4 linked regions of the Homo sapiens genome follow. The protein of the gene in region 1 interacts with the protein of each later gene in a pairwise test. Each region holds a gene or a part of one and is shown in the gene's direction. Other genes may lie near its edges.

Region 1 (5,500 bases):
CCGGAACACCATGTGCAGCTGTTGGGCCAGGCAACCTGGACCTGCGTGGTCACAGATGAGACTGGGGCTTGCTGACTGTTGCTGAATTAAGCTAACAGATTTTTGGTTTGCTTTTGGCATTCTGTATCTGGTAACTTACATGACTAAGGTGCTGGGAGAAAAATCTGCCACCAGTTTATTTTACTTTATTTTTATTTTTTTGAGACGGAGTTTCGCTTTTGTTGCCCAGGTTGGAGTGCAATGGTGCAATCTCAGCTCACTGCACCCTCTGCCTCCCAAGTACAAGCGATTCTCCTGTCTTGGCCTCCCAAGTAGCTTGGATTACAGGCATGCGCCACCATGCCCAGCTAATTTTGTATTTTTAGTAGAGACGGAGTTTCACCATGTTGGTCAGGCTGGTCTCAAACTCCTGACCTCAGGTGATCTGCTTGCCCTGGCCTCCCAACGTGCTGGGATTACAGGCATGAGCCACCGCGCTCGGCCACCAGTTTATTTTTAAGAACTGCAGAAATAACTCCTTTGGGTCACAGGATGAGAAATTGGAGCTCCGAGGTGCCCTGTAACTGTGTGCTATTGGTTCTTGGTGCGATCGCACACAGGGAAGGGAGTGCGGGCACATTGGAGAAGGGATTCCAAAGGTAGGAAGCTCCTTTTGTCCTTTTAGGGATCCCTTTGTCCCAGCCTGGATGATGAGAGACTTGACTTCATATAGTGGCAGAAAACCTGAGGGGCTGTGGTTTTCTCCTGAGATGGTTGCCATGGTGTCCTGTGGACCTGTGGGGCAGCCCCTTTGTGGGAGAGTGGGGCGCGTTCCCCCCATAGCCTGTGCTCCTGCCTTAGACTTCTCCCCTCTACCTGGCCAGTTCCTGCCTGGCCCTGGAGGGCCCGAATGGCTGTGGGGTGCCAGAGCACTGTATCACCACTCAGCTATGTGTGCTGGGTCATTCCCCTTGTTTTGTGGGGCAACACTGACAGCAGACACATTGGCAAGTGGAGGCCCCAGACCTGGCAGCCCCAGGGCTAATGTGGAGAACAGGTGTCCACCGCTCGAGTCAGCTGAGTGGCCCGAGTGATCATCCAGGCCACAGCTGCTGCTACATCCAAAAGAGGATTCGCAGCCTCCAGGCCAGGGGCCCACTTACCCTTTCTTCTCCAGGTGGGGGTGGGGATGGCTTGCCTTGGCTTGGCCTGCGATGTCATTGTAGGGCCAGGATCACAGCCAAGAGGGTTCCTGTCACACAGTTTCTGCTTGGGCTGATGAGCCCTGGCTCTGGCTTAGGGGTCCGCTGTGCTCCCCTGCTGTGAAGCAGTAGAGGTCTGAGTGCCCACCCAGGGGTTTCCCTACCGGGGCTGCTGTGATGGAGCAGATTCAGCTCCAGGCCCTGTGTGGAGAGCAGCATGGCCTCAGCAGGGAGCAGGGAGTAGAGCAGGGCGGGAGGACGCGTCATCCAGAGAGGCCTGAAGAGTCGGAGGGGTGGTGGTGCTGGGTAATGCTGCCAGGTCATGGCCCTGCTTTCTCCAGGCCCTCTCTCAGGCCACCTTAGACAGGAGTAGATGGGAGGACACAAGCTCAGGGCACCAACAGACCTCTGGAATCCCCAGGAGGACTCCCTTGGGGTCTTTCCGGGTGCTTGGGCAGGGTTGGGTTGAGGCTGAGGCCAGGCCTACAGGCTAACGGCTCGGTGGAGCAGCGTCCCAGGGCCCCGAGTAAGCGTTGATGGGCTGAGCAAACAGGGAGGATTTGACAAGGTGGCGTTGGGCCTGCTGGAGGAGGAGCAGGCAGAAGAGGGGCTGCTTCTGCAGATCACCTGAGGTCAGGAGTTCGAGACTAGCCTGGCCAACATGGTGAAACCCTGTCTCTACAAAAATTCAAAAAAAAAAAAAATTAACGGGGCATGATGGCGGGTGCCTGTAAGTCCGGCTACTCGGGAGGCTGAGGTGGAAGAATCGCTTGAACCTGGGAGGCGGAGGTTGCAGTGAGCCGAGATCACGCCACTGCACTCCAGCCTGGGCAACAGAGTGAGACTCTATCTCAAAAAAAAAAAGAAAAAGAAGAGGGGCTGCTTCTTAACCTTGTCCTGCACCTGGCATCCAGGACTGGGCTAGGAACGGGTGGTCCTCCACCAGAAATGGAGCAAACAGGGAGGAGGAAACGGAGATGATGCTCTCTATGGCAGGAGGGTGATATTTTAACACTGACTGCTTACCTATGACAGCCAGTGGGCTGATGAGCTTATGCTTTGACATGCACTTGTGGGCCCAGCTACTCAGGAGGCTGAGGAGACCAGCCTGGGCACACAGCGAGACCCCCCATCTCAAAAAAAGATTGCATGTTCTGGGTTGACTTTCCTTTCAGATAGGGGCTGGTTCTCACCTCATCTGTGCCACCCACCCTCAACCCGGAGACAGCTGAGCACCTGTGACTTGTCAGCTTTGAATTTTTCCTGGCTTCTCTTTAGAACACATGGTCAGCAGCAGTGATGGGGCTGGGGGCAGACACAGCTCACCTTGACCGGAATGACCCCAGGCAGTACTCAGCTCTCTCTATCCTGCCGAGTTTCTTGACCTTGGCTTTGGGGACTCCTGGTAGCAGGTGGGCTCAAGGCACCCCCTGCTGTTTCCTCCATGGGTACTGGCTTTAGGACTGGGCTGCTGTACTGATGAGAGAATGAGAAAGGTCACTTTTGACTCGACCAGCTGTCTCAACTGGCCAGACCTTTGGGCTAAGCAAGGGTCTGTGTGTACACTGCAGCTGGCCTGCTCTAGCTGCTGCATGGAGGCCACCTGCACACCCCCGGGCCTTGACAAGCCAGCCTTGCAGGGAAAGGTTAGGTGGCCTCTGGCCCTCCCCTAACTGCCTTTCCTTCCCCAGAGTTCCAGTCACCTCGAGGTCTGGCACTCAAAAAGGGATGTGCAGCGGCATGTTTCAAGGTGGGGGCCTGTGTGCCGCCCCTTCCACCCTCCTGGTTAGGAACCCTGGGAGGTCAGCTAATTGGCAGTTTCACACGGAAGTGTCGCCTCAGGCTGGTGCGATGTCCAGTTGGCTTCAGCCAGCTCCTCCGCTGGGCTTAGGCCTGGGGTGGACCCAGCACACAGGTGTCCAGGGGGTGAGTGTGAGGGCTGTGTGTGGTGTACCCCATCCTTCTTGGTGGGCACGGTCTCCGCAGGCCCAGGAACGTGCAGGGCACCCCCACCCAAGGACCTGTCCTGTCTTCAGTGTTTTTTTTTGTGGCATAATTAGTCGTTTTGCCTTTTTTTTTTTTTTTTTTTTTGAGACGGAGTCTTGCTCTGTCGCCCAGGCTGGAGTGCAGTGGCACGATCTCCGCCTCCTGGGTTCATGATATTATCCTGCCTCAGCCTCCCGAGTAGCTGGGACTGCAGGCGCCCACCACCACACCCGGCTAATTTTTTGTATTTTTTAGTAGAGACGGGGTTTCACCATGTTAGCCAGGGTGGTCTTGATCTCCTGACCTCGTGATCTGCCCGCCTCGGCCTCCCAAAGTGTTGGGATTACAGGCGTGAACCACCGCGCCCAGGCTGTTTTGCCTTTTTATGCTCTGCCACACTAAATTGGCATCAAGACCCTTGATGTTGTTAGGGGAGGGGCCGTGCGTGGTGGCTCACGCCTGTAATCCCAGCACTTTGGGAGGCTGAGATGGGCAGATCACCTGAAGTCAGGAGTTCGAGACCAGCCTGGCCAACATGGTGAAACCTTATCTCTACTAAAAATACAAAAAATTAACTGGGAGTGGTGGTGCATGCCTGTAATTCCAGCTACTTGGGAGGCTGAGGCAGAAGAATCGCTTGAACCCAGGAGGCAGAGGTTGCAGTGAGCCAAGATTGCACCACTACACTCCAGCCTGGGTGACAGAGTGAGAAGCCATCTCAAAAACATTTAAAAAAGGGTCGAGGCTTGAGGACACACCTCTGCTGGCTTCCCCTGGACTCTGGGCCTGGGCCACAGACCCCAGGCACCTTCCACACCACTGGCTCAGAAACTTTTAGGCATTGCTTCTTTAAATCTGAGGACTGTGTGAGGCAGCTTTCTGCATCAAGAAAGCATCAAGTTTCTAACTCCGCGCTGGTGTAGCTGTCAGGAGGACTTATGGAGGGGTGAGGGAAGCCCTTTCTAAATACGTGACTTTCAGGAGTGGAGGAGAACTTGGTTAACACATACTGAGGTTTTTTGTTTTTGATGAGGTTTTTTTTTTTAAATTTTTTATTTTTTTGAGACCTAGTTTCGCTCTTGTTGCCCAGGCTGGAGTGCGATGGTGCGATCTCGGCTCACCGCAACCTCCGCTTCCCTGATTCAAGTGATTCTTCTGTCTTGGACTCTCAAGTAGCTCGGATCACAGGCATACGCAACCTCGCCCGGCTAATTTTTTTTGTATTCAGTAGAGATGGGGTTTTACCATGTTAGTCAGGCTGGTTGCGAACTCCTGACTTCAGGTGATCAACCCGCCTTGGCCTCCCAGAGTGCTGGGATTTCAGGTGTGCACCACCAAGCCTGGCCTGATGAGTTTATTTTTTAGTAATTTCAGATTTATAACAAATTAAGTAAGAGCTCCCAAATCCCCCCTCACCCCCAGGGGCCATTCACCTATTAACATCTGTCACGGGGCTGGCATGTTGTTCGGGTTAGATGAGGCAACCTTCATGCCGTGTCATCACCTAAAGCTCCTGTTTCCAGCAGGGTTCATCGAGTTGGCCTGGCCTCTTTATACTTTCTGGGGACTTTTTCCCTTGCATGGAAAGTTCAGTTTAGGTTTTTTTGTTGTTGTTATTTGTTTGTTTGTTTGTTTTTTTAATGGAGTTTGATTCTTGTTGCCCAGGTTGGAGTGCAATGGTGCGGTCTTGGCTCACTGCAACCTCCGCCTCCCGGGTTCAAGCAATTCTCCTGCCTCAGCCTCCTGAGTAGCTGGGATTACAGGCATGAGCCGCCACGCCCAGATAATTTTTTTGTATTAGAGATGGGGTTTCACCATGCTGGCCAGGCTGGTCTCGAACTCCTGACCTCAAGTGATCCACCTGCCTCGGCCTCCCAAAGTGCTAGAATTACAGGCGTGAGCCACCACGCCCGGCCAAGTTTAGTTTTTGAACAAAAAGGGAGAAAGGAAGAAACCAGAGAAGAATTGAGGTGCGCTCCCTTGGACTCCCCCTTCCCTACAGGTCCCTTCCTCCCCAGCAGGGCAGCCTCTGCCTGTCCCCCGCCTCTTGTGACCGGCGCTGTCTGCCCTCTGTCCCCGCCCTGGCCCCACAGCACTCTCGAGTGGACCCTGAGGAGCTCTTCACCAAGCTCGACCGCATTGGCAAGGGCTCGTTTGGGGAGGTCTACAAGGGCATCGATAACCACACAAAGGAGGTGGTGGCCATCAAGATCATCGACCTGGAGGAGGCCGAGGATGAGATCGAGGACATCCAGCAGGAGATCACTGTCCTCAGTCAGTGCGACAGCCCCTACATCACCCGCTACTTTGGCTCCTACCTAAAGGTGCCTGTT
Region 2 (3,849 bases), on another chromosome or scaffold:
GCATGGGGTTCTAAGCAAGGGAGACAGTCTCTTAGGCCTGGAGCAAGGGGCCAGGGGCCTGGGCAGGCCACAGAGCCCCACAGTGCCCTCGCTACCCTATTAATGGGCCAGGAATCTGGAAGCCAGCCACCACATGTCCTCATGCCCAGGGTCTTCCGGCAGGTGGAGCTGAAGAGCCAAGAGGCTCCGAGTCTGCAGCAGCAGCCAGACCAGTAGCTGGAGCCCCAGTCCCACAAGGAGCTTGGATGTGCGGACAAGCAGGGTGGTGAGTAGAGCCCTCAGGCGGGGTGGGCAGGCAGGAGCAGGGGAGGCTCGCACTGTGCCCAGATTCCCACCCCCTCCCTCTCTCTGAAGATCTTAGTGAGCTGAGCCTCACTGATAGCATGGAGGCTGCACCGGGAGAGGACAGGGAGGGTTCTCCCCCATGACAACCCCACTGCACAGCAGATCCAGCAGCTGCTTCCTCTAATGCAGGACTCCCCAGGAGCACCCAGGCTTGAGTGGAGAAGCTGTTGGTACAGGAGAGGCGGCAGGAGGAGCAGGAGAGGCTGCATGCCATTCTTTTCGGGCTGCCGAGAACAGGGAGCTAAACATCACCATCATCTAAGAGCGGGTCAAGAAATTGAAAAAAAAAAACAAAACATTTAAGGGGTTAATATCCTACACAATTCATTTACTTCATTTGAATGTTAGAGCCACTTATGTTTGTGTTTCTAATTTATAGTTTAAATTTATTTGTGTTTCTAATTTATAGTTTAAATTTATTTGTTTCTAATTTATAGTTTAAATTTATTTGTGTTTCTAATTTATAGTTTAAATTTATTTTTGTTTCTAATTTATAATTTAAATTTATTTGTAAAAAGTTAAATGAGAGTGGGTCTTTCTCTCATGTTCACTCTGGCATCTTTTAGCATTTCTTTAATTTGATAATTATAGGACGTTAGCATGCATATCGAGTTTGCCCTTATGTGGTGGGAGTTCAAACACACAAAGACCCACTGTATGCACACAACTGTTCTTGCTGGTTTGGGATAGGCTGCCATGCTTTTTTAATGTTAGTACAGCCTGTATATTCATTACGGAATTCAGATAAAATTTCCTTATGTTCTGCTGTTATGTTTGATCGAATCCTAATCACAGTGAGCTCTTCATTAGCTCAATATGTGGTTTGCCCTCTGGAAACAGCCTTTCCCCCTTTTTCTGTGTATTGGGGATGGGAGTAATAACATTTTGGGGAGGTTTTTAAATCTCCCAGAAGAGGAAAGTGGCCTGCTTTGGCAGGTGTGTGCAGGATAGAATATGTTTCATTTGTTCCGGTGCCAAGAATGAGCGCTGTACTACGGTAGTTCCCTTAGGATTTGTATGTGCTCTAGGCTCATGAAGATACTGCCTCATGAGCTGTGGCAGTTGTACTCTTTTTTGATGACCTGAAAAGGGATTATTTCTGAGGAATGAAAGGCTCCCATCATGACTGTGGATGTGGAAAACCTTTTCTAGCTGAGAGCATTTATATCTACAATACATTTTAAAGTCAGAGTTCATGTTCCCTGTTTTAATCACATGACTACATGTCCCAGTACACAAAAGGGCACTGGTTGGCGTTCTCCTTAATGTATTTAGTAAAGATCAGAAGAAATCCTTTAAGAGTTTAAATGCCCCTGGAACAGGCATATACAGGCTCTAGTCAAGAATGAATTCGAGTGAAGGAAAGCTGTGTGACACCTGGCATTCCTCTGTGTTCATGGAGCTTATTTGAGGCTAGAAGATGGATTTTACCATCTAGACCTCTCTGGCTAATAGCTAGTCTTCAACCATCTGACATAGGAATTTACTTCTTTTCCTTGAATGGAGAACACTTTAAAAATAATAACAAACATTATTATAAACTAATATATGTGAGAGTACTTAGTTGAAACAAAAAGGAGTTTTAGTAGACAGTATTATACTACATTTGAAAATCAAGGAGCAGTTTATGCAACGTAAAACGTTTACAAACTGCAGCACAATCTACTGTTCGTGAATGTCAAAGTGTCATGAGGAAAGTGTCTATACAATCACAGAGTTATATTTCCTCACAAAGTTCTTTACAAAGAGTGAAATATGTTTTTATACCTCTCAGTTTCAGTTAGAGGCATATTTTGTGTAATATTTATGGCTTAAAATGGACTAAAGGTCCTGTTCTTGCCTTGTCTGAACTTGCCGCTTTTGCATTCTTTGAGTTCAGTTTAAAGACAGTTACTTTAAGCCCATTTTAAACCCTCAGGCTAGAAATCGTACCACTGTTAATTAGCCACATTATTTGGTCTAACAGTTTATCATTCTGAAACTGAGCTTACCTAATACATTGATAAATTATTTCAAAGGTATTTTTATAGTTCAAATCGCTTCACTTTTACCCTGACACGTATAAATGACTAGGAATGACCTTCAGATAGCATTTAGCAACTGTAACCAATCTGACAATAATGTGTTCATCAGGTACCTGTGGATTAAATCACATACTGGCATATTTAAGCTGAATGTCAGTCTGAAAAATAAATGTACTATATTAACTCAAATACCACTCTCTGTGTAGGTATTTTGTCATATGTTTAAGAAAAAGCTAAAGAGAATGGAAATCCTATGACAATAACTATGACAATAACTATGACAAGTCTTTCTTCAAAGTGCATGCAGTCTTTTGCAGTACCTCATTCAGCCAAGTATTTGTTCTCTACCTCATTCAGTATAAGGCAGCCTTTAATTTGCTTAGAAGGCAACATTAGAAGGTTAGAGTTCAGCAGGAACATAGAATTTTAAAATGTGACTTCAACTGAATAAATTTGAATTTCTGTAGGGAGTAAAGAATCAAAACACCTATTTAAAGACTGCAAAATATGATAATTATTTTTAAAGTAATTGATTAAACCTGGTAGGTTTTCCCAAAATGAAAAACAATCAGTTCTAAAACCAAAGCTGATTTTTAGAAAATGTGAAAATGTAAATCAACCCTATCCATAATAGATTCTCTAAAACTTTATCTTACAGTCACTTTCAAATAACTATTCAAAAATGTAACTGCTATATTAACGTCTTAAAATAATTTAAAACATTTTAAAATATGAATACTGTAGTTTAAAACAAAGAATCTAGGGGAAGGAAAAGTAGACAAAGAAATGCCAATTCCAGTCCAAAGCTGTATTTGCCAAGTTTTCTTAGAATGACTTTTACCGATTTATGAATTCTTATACACAGAATGCATAATGGAAATACTGATTTTTGTCTAAAGTGGCATTATTGACTGCTGCTGTGATGCTACTATAATGTAATACATTATTAAATTGTTTCAAGGTGCTGTTTTGCCTAAAAATTTTGTGTGTCTTGAAAACTATAGTACTGGGTATTGAGACTCTGCAAATTCTCGGCATGCTTGGCATGAGGTAATCGGTTTTTATTCTTACAAAATTGTAACTATGTAAGTGTGTTTATTAAAAGAACACAAACTAAAAAAGTTAACAGGAATTAAAGTTGTGGGATGAAAAAGTTACAGGATAAAAAAATACTGTGGAAAAGTGGCAAAAAAAAGTTGTGGAAAAAAAGTAAAAAAAAAGTTTTATGAAAAGTTATTTTAAAAAGTTATGAAAAATTAGTTACAGGATTTAAAAAAAGTCATGGGATAAAAATAAAAATAAATAAAAGCAGGCCCCTGTCAGCATAAGCCTGGAGAAGTGGGTCTGGAGTCTTCACCCCCACCATGTCCCTACAGCCCCTCCCCAGTCAGCCCTTTACCATTAGGGTAGCAAGACAAGACCCTTGTCTAATGGAGGGAGACAAACAGACCCTTTACCACCTTGACCAAGGCTGAGTCCT
Region 3 (3,930 bases), on another chromosome or scaffold:
GTGTAAAATAATTAGTAATAGTGTAAATCATGGTATTTCCTCAATCACTGCCTGTCAGAGGGTTCTCCCAGTAGGAGGAAACAGTGCTGACTCCACCTTTCTTCATCTCAGAAGGGATGGACTAGAAAAAGCCCTAGCCTTCCTAGAAGAAAAGACTAGAAGAGGAAGAAGACAAAGGGAAGAATCACACTAATGGATAGTTATTGATCGTTTATCATGCTAAGCCATTATGGGATGAACACAAGATTCAGACTAATTAGACAAAATATACTAAAAAATATGAAACAAAATGTAATCATTTATATCGTTAAAGGAAATGAGTGACATAAAAATAGATTACCGGTTGAAGTTCTGAGTGAATGATGCAGATAACTTGTGCTCTAGAGTCTGGAGGAGAAAGAGAACACTCTGATTGTAGCCCCCAAGAAGGGCTTTGCCATGGTGGTGAGTTCTTGCTATTGTATGGTTTTCTGAGGAGGAGGAGGAGGCAAGGAATTCGCTTTATAATTAGAATATTCTGAGGACACCCAAGAAGAAATTATTAAGAATTAGTTACTTCTGCCATTGGAGTAACTCATGGATTTTGAGCAGTGCTTCAGATATTAATACTACAGTTTCAGGGTCCAAATTAAGAAACTACATGAGATTCTCTGAGGCCTCATATCAAAGGTTATTTGATATGTAGCAACCTCTAAGTTTGGGACAACCATCTTCCCAGATTAGTTTTTTCCCTCAGGTTAAATTTGGCTTTAAAGAGTAAGATAGGTTTGAGGGATGAATGGATAAGCAAAATGTGGTATATACATATATTGCAATATTATTCAGCCATTAAAAGGAAAGAAATTCTGACCCTTGCAACATGGGTGAACATTATGAGGACATTATGCTAAGTGAAATAAGTCAGTCACAAGAAGATTCCACTTATATGATTCCACTTGTATGAGATACTTAGTGAAAATCATAGAGACAAAGTAGAGTGGTGATGGCTAGAGGGAGGAGGGAAATGGGAAGTTATTGTTTAATGGGTATAAAGTTTCAGTGTTACAAGATGAAAAGAATTATGGAGATGGATGGTGATGTTGGTTGCACAACATTATGAACATATTAACACTGAACTTACATTTAAAAATTGTTAAGATGGTGAATTTTATGGGTATTTTACTAGTTTTAAAAATTGGAAGAAAAGAAGGCTGGGAAAGACATGGAGCCAGCTGCCTCCAGCCTTGTGTCTTTTCCCTCCTGCCTTTCCAAGAAAGGTGAACTACAGATGTTGTAGCTTTCCCCAACCCAGTACACTCTTGAATACTTTTGCTTTGCTATTCTCCAGTGCTTCAGAGGCCAGACGTACACGGTAGGCTGGCTCATGGTAGTACTTCTACATCTCCACAACTGGGCAATGTAAAGAACCTAGGAGACCCTCTTATATTTTTCAGAGCTTACTTGATGGACTGTGCTACAACCATCCTGTCACTGCTTAGGAGACCAGAACATCTTTTCTTCTTAGCTTTGTAATACTCTTTTATTCTGAAGCAAAAATGTATTAGATTGGGTATGCTTTTTACCATAGATTACTTTATAAATGTGCCTTGTTCCTGGAGCATTGGTTAATAAAGGTATCATTATGCTGTTACTTGCTGACTTTTTTTTTTTTCAAATTCTAGTGGCATTGATTGTAAAACATTCATTTGACATGGAATTTATTGCTATGAATTACTAAAATAGTAACTGCCTTCCTACCAATTGAAAGGTTAAAGATACCAATATGTGAAGTCTGAGCCTTAAGTGGAGAGTGTCAAGTGAAGTACTAAAATAAGTTAGAAAAAGGAGGAACTTCTTGTACTTCTTTCTGTTCTCTAGAGCTGTGCTGTCTAGTATGGTAGCCTCTAGCTGCATGTGGTTATTGATCACTTGAAAGGTGGCTAGTCCTAATTCAGATGTGTTATAAGTGTAAAATATACACTGGATTTAGAAGACTTTGTATGGGAAAAATTAAAATAATTGATTTTATATTGAAATGATAATATTTTGGATATATTGGGTTAAATAAAATATACTAGTACAGTTAATATCACATGTTTCTTTTCACTTTCCATACTATGGCCCTAGACAACTTAAAATTACTGTGGCTCACATTACATTTCTTTTGGACAGCGTTGTTCTAAAGGACCAAGCGCTGTGCCATACACATATGGATTGAGTATCCCTTATCCACAGTGCTTGGGCCTAGAAGTATTTTGATTAAGAATTTTTTCAGATTTTGGAGTATTTGCAGAATATATGCCATTTGAGCATCACTGATCCAAAAATCCGAAATTCAGAATGCTCCAATGAGCATTTCTTTTGAGTGTCCTGTTGTTGCTCAGAGTTTCAGATTTTGGAGCATTTCAGATTTTCGGACTAGGAATTCTAAATATTTGTCGATTGATCAGTCTAGAGCTCTAAACTTTCAGTAGCCTTGCCCATTGTGCACAGTTTAAAATCAATTAGGGCACCACAACTAGGCCAAGAAAACTAAGTGGAGTATTATAATGTAGAATACATTTAGGGAACCTTTCACATTAAAAACTTGCCTGGAGATACATGTTATAACATGGATAAATCTTAAAAACATTATGCTAAGTGAGAGACGTCATTCATAAAAGACTACTTATTGTATAATTCCCTTTATGCAAAATGCCTAGAATAGGCAAATCCATAGAAACAGAAAATAGTTTAGAGATTAACCCTAGGAGCTGCAGGGAAGGGAAAATGGGGAAGGAAGGACTCTTAGTGGGTCTGAGATTTCTTTTTGGAGTAATGAATATGTTCTGAAATTGGATAGTGCTGATGTTTGTACATGTGTGAAAATATTAAAACTACTGAATTGTATACTTAGGGTAAATTTTATGGTATATGAATTACATCTCAATAAAGCTGTTATATAACATATTCAAAACCAAAATTCAAGGGCAAGTTTATTCTTTGTGTATCAACAATTCAAAATAATGAAATATTATGGAACAATAATAAATAACATAAAATTACTTAGAGCACTCAGATTCAGAATAATCAATATATAATGTTTTCTGTAAAGCCTGTGTTTACCTGGAGAAACCTAATTTTAACTGACTTGTTCTAAATTGGTAGTAGTATTTTTATTTAAAAAAAATGATGGTTACATATATATTTTTTTAACCTGTGTAATTATGTTTTATTAATTTTATAAAACATATAATATATAAAACTTATAATTTTACTAATTATGTTCTATTATGTTACTATAGAAATTATTTAAATCAATAATACCATATAGTTTCTTTTGTTATAAAGGATTTGTATAAGTCCTTGAAAACACTATCTGCAGAACTGGTACCTTGGCTTAATTTGAAGAAGCAGGATGAAAATGAAGGTATCAAAGTTGAAGATTTGTTGTTTATAGTAGATACTATGCTGGAAGAAGTTGAAAATAAGGAAAAGGTAATACCTACATGAACGGTCACCTTCTAATGTTTCTTATCTCAAAAACTGATAAATTGTGGATATTGATATTTGTTCTACTAGAGTTCTATTTGTCTTTTAAAAGTTTTTATTTGGGATTATTTTAAGATAATGAACTCTTTCTTTTTTACCTCTTTTTTGGACAGGACAGCAATATGCCACACTTTCAAACTTTGCAAGCTATTGTTTCTCACTTCCAAAAGTTATTTGATGTGCCTTCTTTAAATGGAGTCTATCCCCGAATGAATGAAGTTTATACTAGGCTTGGAGAAATGAACAATGCTGTGAGAAACCTCCAAGAACTCTTAGAATTAGGTGATGACCTAATTTGTCATTTTGGGCCCCCATTTAAGAATTTTTAATAAATTAACAAAAAGTAGATTAAAAAATGTTTAAGTGAAAAATTGAGGATAACTGAAGCATAAAATGTTTGATGTATGTAATTTTGGAAAT
Region 4 (3,930 bases), on another chromosome or scaffold:
AGGTTCCATGGTCACAGTAAACTTGCAAAGATGCAAAGGCAGCTTGGCTCATCTTCAGTTCCACCAGCCTCTGCAGCACTTGCTCTAAGGAGGGAAGCAGATTTGGGTTTTCAGAAGCCAGGGCTGAAGGGTCCAGTGAGCGCGCAGTCCTTTCCCTGGAGAGAGGTGTAGTCACTTCTCCCAGACCCAGCTTCCGTGGCCAGGCCCTGGCTCCCTGGTGTTTTTCTCTTGTCCAGCTTAGCTGGTCAGCCAGCTTTTTCCACTGTCTGCCCATCTGGCTTGTCAGATATTAGAAGATCTCTAGAACCAGAGGCTTGGGCGAAGAGTAAGGTCAGAGCCTGGAGAGAGGCTGGGTGGGGCTCTGATCAAGCAGGTAGGTCCAGTTGGGGGCAAGGGAGAGGCTCCACATGACCCCAAGTTCTGAATCCTAGGATTGTCCTCAGGTACTATTCCCAGGAAAGAGGCCCTACAACTTCCAAGTTGCCAAGAGCCACAGGGAAGATGTCTTACCTCTGTTTTCTTGGGTGGTTTCTTGGCTGGGTAGATGTTTTTGGAGGTAAGAGGTCGGGGTGGGGGTGTTGGCCATGGTTTATCCTCTTTTTACCTCCAGAGAGTTGGAGAGAGTCTTCTAGTTGGGCAGCTTTTTTTTTTTCCCCCTGAAAAGGCCTGAATCAGAAACACAGCCAGTAGGCCAAGTGCAATGGCTCACACCTGTAATCTCAACATTTTGGGAGACCAAGGTGGATCACTTGAGCCCAGGACTTTGAGACCAGCCTGGGCAAGATGGCAAGACCATGTTTCTATAGAAATTAGCTGAGCATGGTAGTGTGCACCTATAATCTCAGCTACTAGGGAGGCTGAGGTGGGAGCATTGCTTGAGCCCAGGAGGTGGAAGCTGCAGTGAACTATGATTGTGCCACTGCAGGGGAGAAGGGAAGGGAGGAAAGGAGGAGACAGGCAGATAGCTACATTGTGCATTGCCCAGACAACTACTTCCTCATCACCATCCTCTGCCCAGTAGGGGCCCAGTGAGGGTCACTCTGCAGCACAGACTGGCCTTCTGGAAGAACAGTGCCTTTCTCCTCCCTGACTTTGGCACACCTTCCTCCTGCCTGCTGTGGCTGCCACAGGTCAGAGCCTGCTGCTGTCTTTTGCTGAGCTCCAGGGAGAGCGAGGTCCTCGTGTTCATGAAGGAGGCCGTGCAGCCCCTGCTTTGAGCTTTGGCCATCTGAAATGCTGCCTAGCAGCCCAAGGCCTGGGCAACCAATCCACACCCCTGAGTGGCTCCTAGCATGTGTGACTGTCACTCTGACTGCAGCAACACCTGTCCTACCTGTTCCACACCCTTGTGTTCATAGTACTGAGGCACCTCTCCCGCATGGCCCCCTAACCCCCTGCTCTGTTCTGTGACAGACACCCAAGGACAATGCTGCTACTCTACAACCATCTGATGACACCGTGTTACCTGGCGGTGTCCCTTCCCCTGGTGCCAGTCTCACTAGCATGGCGGCATCTCAGGTTCGTGCCTCCTCCCCCTCTGCCCACTGCCCTCCTGTACCTATTATGCATTATCTTCTCCTTTCACAGGCAGCTTGTTCCCTAGGGTCAAGGGCCCTTCCTGGGGACCGGGCCGGGGGAAGGCTCAGACTGGGCTTTTTTCCTTGAGGCCTGGGGAGATTGAAGATTGTTAGAATGAGTTTGGGAGCTTGACTCACCCCATCCTGGGTGATTCTTACCAGAAATTGAATGACCATCTCACACGTTTCTTCCCAAACAGAATCATGATGCTGACAATGTCCCTAATCTCATGGATGAAACCAAGTGAGTGTCTCCTGTTGGGGCAGCAGTCTCTAGGCTGAGAGAGTCAGGGAGGCCACTGCCCATGACCTTCTTTCCCATTGAGCCACCTGCACCCCTGACCCCTGTGTCTCCATCCCTAGGACTTTCTCATCAACCGAGAGCCTGCGACAACTCTCCCAACAGCTCAATGGTCTTGTTTGTGAGGTACCTCAGGAACTGAGGCCGAGAGCGGGGTGGGGGGAAGGGAACTATGATAGAAACTGAAGCAGGGATTCACAAGAGAGAGGGAAGATCCTGGGACCAGCCAATGTGCTGGGCAATGTTAAGGAAGTCGCCTTTTCCCTGAGCCTTCTCCCTTGAAGTTGTGCACATGAAGGAGTTGGACCCCATGACTGGTTGCATCATTGTATCCTGCTGCAGAAGCACTGGATGAGAGCTGCTCGGGAGGAAAGGATGGTGGGGAAATAAGAACCATGAGAGAAGTTGGCACAAAGGGGTTACGGGACAGAGGGTCCAAGTTAGAAAAGAAAATGTTGCCAATTGCTGGGGAAGAAACGAAGTTAGAGGGCTTAGACACTGAGGGGACAGAACATCTCCATGTGCACTCTCGTCTCTTATAGTCTGCGACATGTGTCAATGGGGAGGGCCCTGCATCGTCTGCTAACCTGAAGGATCTGGAGGTAAGAGGCCCTGGGCCGTGGCCCAGTGACCCTGCAGGCCAGCCCTCCAACCTCCTCCCACAGCGGGGGCTGGGTGCCCCTCTGCCAGCTGAGACAGCCCACACACCCCCCAACCCTAATGATTGCTCTCTCTACCTCTCCCCCCAATCCTCCTCCAACTCCTCCTCTCTGCATGCGCCTCAGAGCCGGTACCAACAGCTAGCGGTAGCCCTGGACTCCAGCTATGTAACAAACAAACAACTCAATATCACGATAGAGAAATTGGTAAGAGTCCAGTGGGGTCCCCTGATTCCATGCTGCTAATCCTGGGCTCCAGTTTCCCCTTGGGACCCTGAAGAAAGGGGCAGGGGGCCCCTGGTGCCAAGGGCGAATGGGGAGCTGGGGGGCCCAGGCCTCAGCTGGAGGGACCCCAGAGCACGGAGCATGCAGCATGGCTCTTCTGTTGCTGCCCTCTTTGCCTACTCTCTCTTCTCTAGACACCCCTGCTCGAGTCCTTGCCACACACGCCCTGGGGTTGTTGCCTCTTGGGGAAGCGCTAGCCTGACTGGTTGTCAGGAGCCCTGTATTTCTGCCCTGACTCAGTCCTTAATTTGCTCTTTGATTTGGGACAAGCCACCTCTCCTCCTTGGGCTTGCATTTCCTGAGGAGGTAGAGTTAGAGAGTATCAAAGGTCTCTTAGCTCTGAGAGTCCAAGATTTAAAGGCCCATTAGAATGTAAACCTCAGGGCCAAGGGCTCCTGTCTGTCTTTTTCTGTCTGGTATCCCTGCTATTAAGAACCGTACCTGGCCTGTGTGTGCTCAGCAAATGTTTGTTGAATGATTACACCTTTCTAAATCACAAACTGGCAGAGGGTGGGCTTTTCTCACACTCCATCTCTAGAGGTTTATGTTACTGTCCTTTCAAGAGAATCGAGATTCAGACTTTCAGTTCTGTGGCTGTGGGCAAAAACCAACAAAGACACAAATCCCCTTTCCTTGAGAGCCTGAGGAGAGTTTACCAGTTCGTGTTCCCATTGGGTCTGAGAACTTTGCCTTTAAAATCCATTCCTGGCCCCTGCCTACCCGTTCCTGGTCTGGGGAATAGAGTTGAGGGGGCCACCCTCAGTCACCTTCCTTTGACTCTTCCCCACAGAAACAACAGAACCAAGAAATTACGGATCAGTTGGAAGAAGTAACGTGATTTCTTTGTTTGCTCACAACATGACTGCTGGGTTTGGGGGGCATTCAAATGTAGAGGCCTCAGTCTCGTCTCACCCACTCCCAGCCTGGGGAAGAAGGCTCACCCCCCCAGATTCCACCCCATCCCCACAGGGTCCCTGATAACCTGGTCCCATGGGTGGGCCTGTCCTGGGACATTGGTGGCATTCTGGGGGCATGTCCCTTGCTGTGCCGTCTCTGCCTCCCCCTCGTAAGAGCTCTGTCTTCCTCTTCCTATAGGAAAAGAAAGAAT

What was found. Proteins that work in one complex are often made in the same cells at the same time.
Region 2: the proteins of STK25 (region 1) and GOLGA6L9 interact in binary tests that used the Homo sapiens proteins (3 or more experiments, as listed by UniProt).
Region 3: the proteins of STK25 (region 1) and CEP70 interact in binary tests that used the Homo sapiens proteins (3 or more experiments, as listed by UniProt).
Region 4: the proteins of STK25 (region 1) and GOLGA2 interact in binary tests that used the Homo sapiens proteins (3 or more experiments, as listed by UniProt).

The regions. Positions count from the first base shown.
Region 1 is NC_000002.12:241,501,469-241,506,968, reverse strand, and holds part of STK25 (serine/threonine-protein kinase 25), read left to right. Parts: intron 1-5,260; coding exon 5,261-5,491; intron 5,492-5,500. UniProt on the Homo sapiens protein: Oxidant stress-activated serine/threonine kinase that may play a role in the response to environmental stress.
Region 2 is NC_000015.10:82,435,805-82,439,653, forward strand, and holds the end of GOLGA6L9 (golgin subfamily A member 6-like protein 9), read left to right. Parts: intron 1-162; coding exon 163-265; intron 266-474; coding exon 475-607; 3' UTR 608-3,349; downstream 3,350-3,849.
Region 3 is NC_000003.12:138,500,261-138,504,190, reverse strand, and holds part of CEP70 (centrosomal protein of 70 kDa), read left to right. Parts: intron 1-313; coding exon of another isoform or gene 314-355; exon of another isoform or gene 356-2,941; intron 2,942-3,309; coding exon 3,310-3,456; intron 3,457-3,623; coding exon 3,624-3,792; intron 3,793-3,930.
Region 4 is NC_000009.12:128,266,008-128,269,937, reverse strand, and holds part of GOLGA2 (golgin subfamily A member 2), read left to right. Parts: intron 1-1,413; coding exon 1,414-1,518; intron 1,519-1,777; coding exon 1,778-1,821; intron 1,822-1,940; coding exon 1,941-2,004; intron 2,005-2,420; coding exon 2,421-2,480; intron 2,481-2,663; coding exon 2,664-2,744; intron 2,745-3,612; coding exon 3,613-3,651; intron 3,652-3,917; coding exon 3,918-3,930. UniProt on the Homo sapiens protein: Peripheral membrane component of the cis-Golgi stack that acts as a membrane skeleton that maintains the structure of the Golgi apparatus, and as a vesicle thether that facilitates vesicle fusion to the Golgi membrane.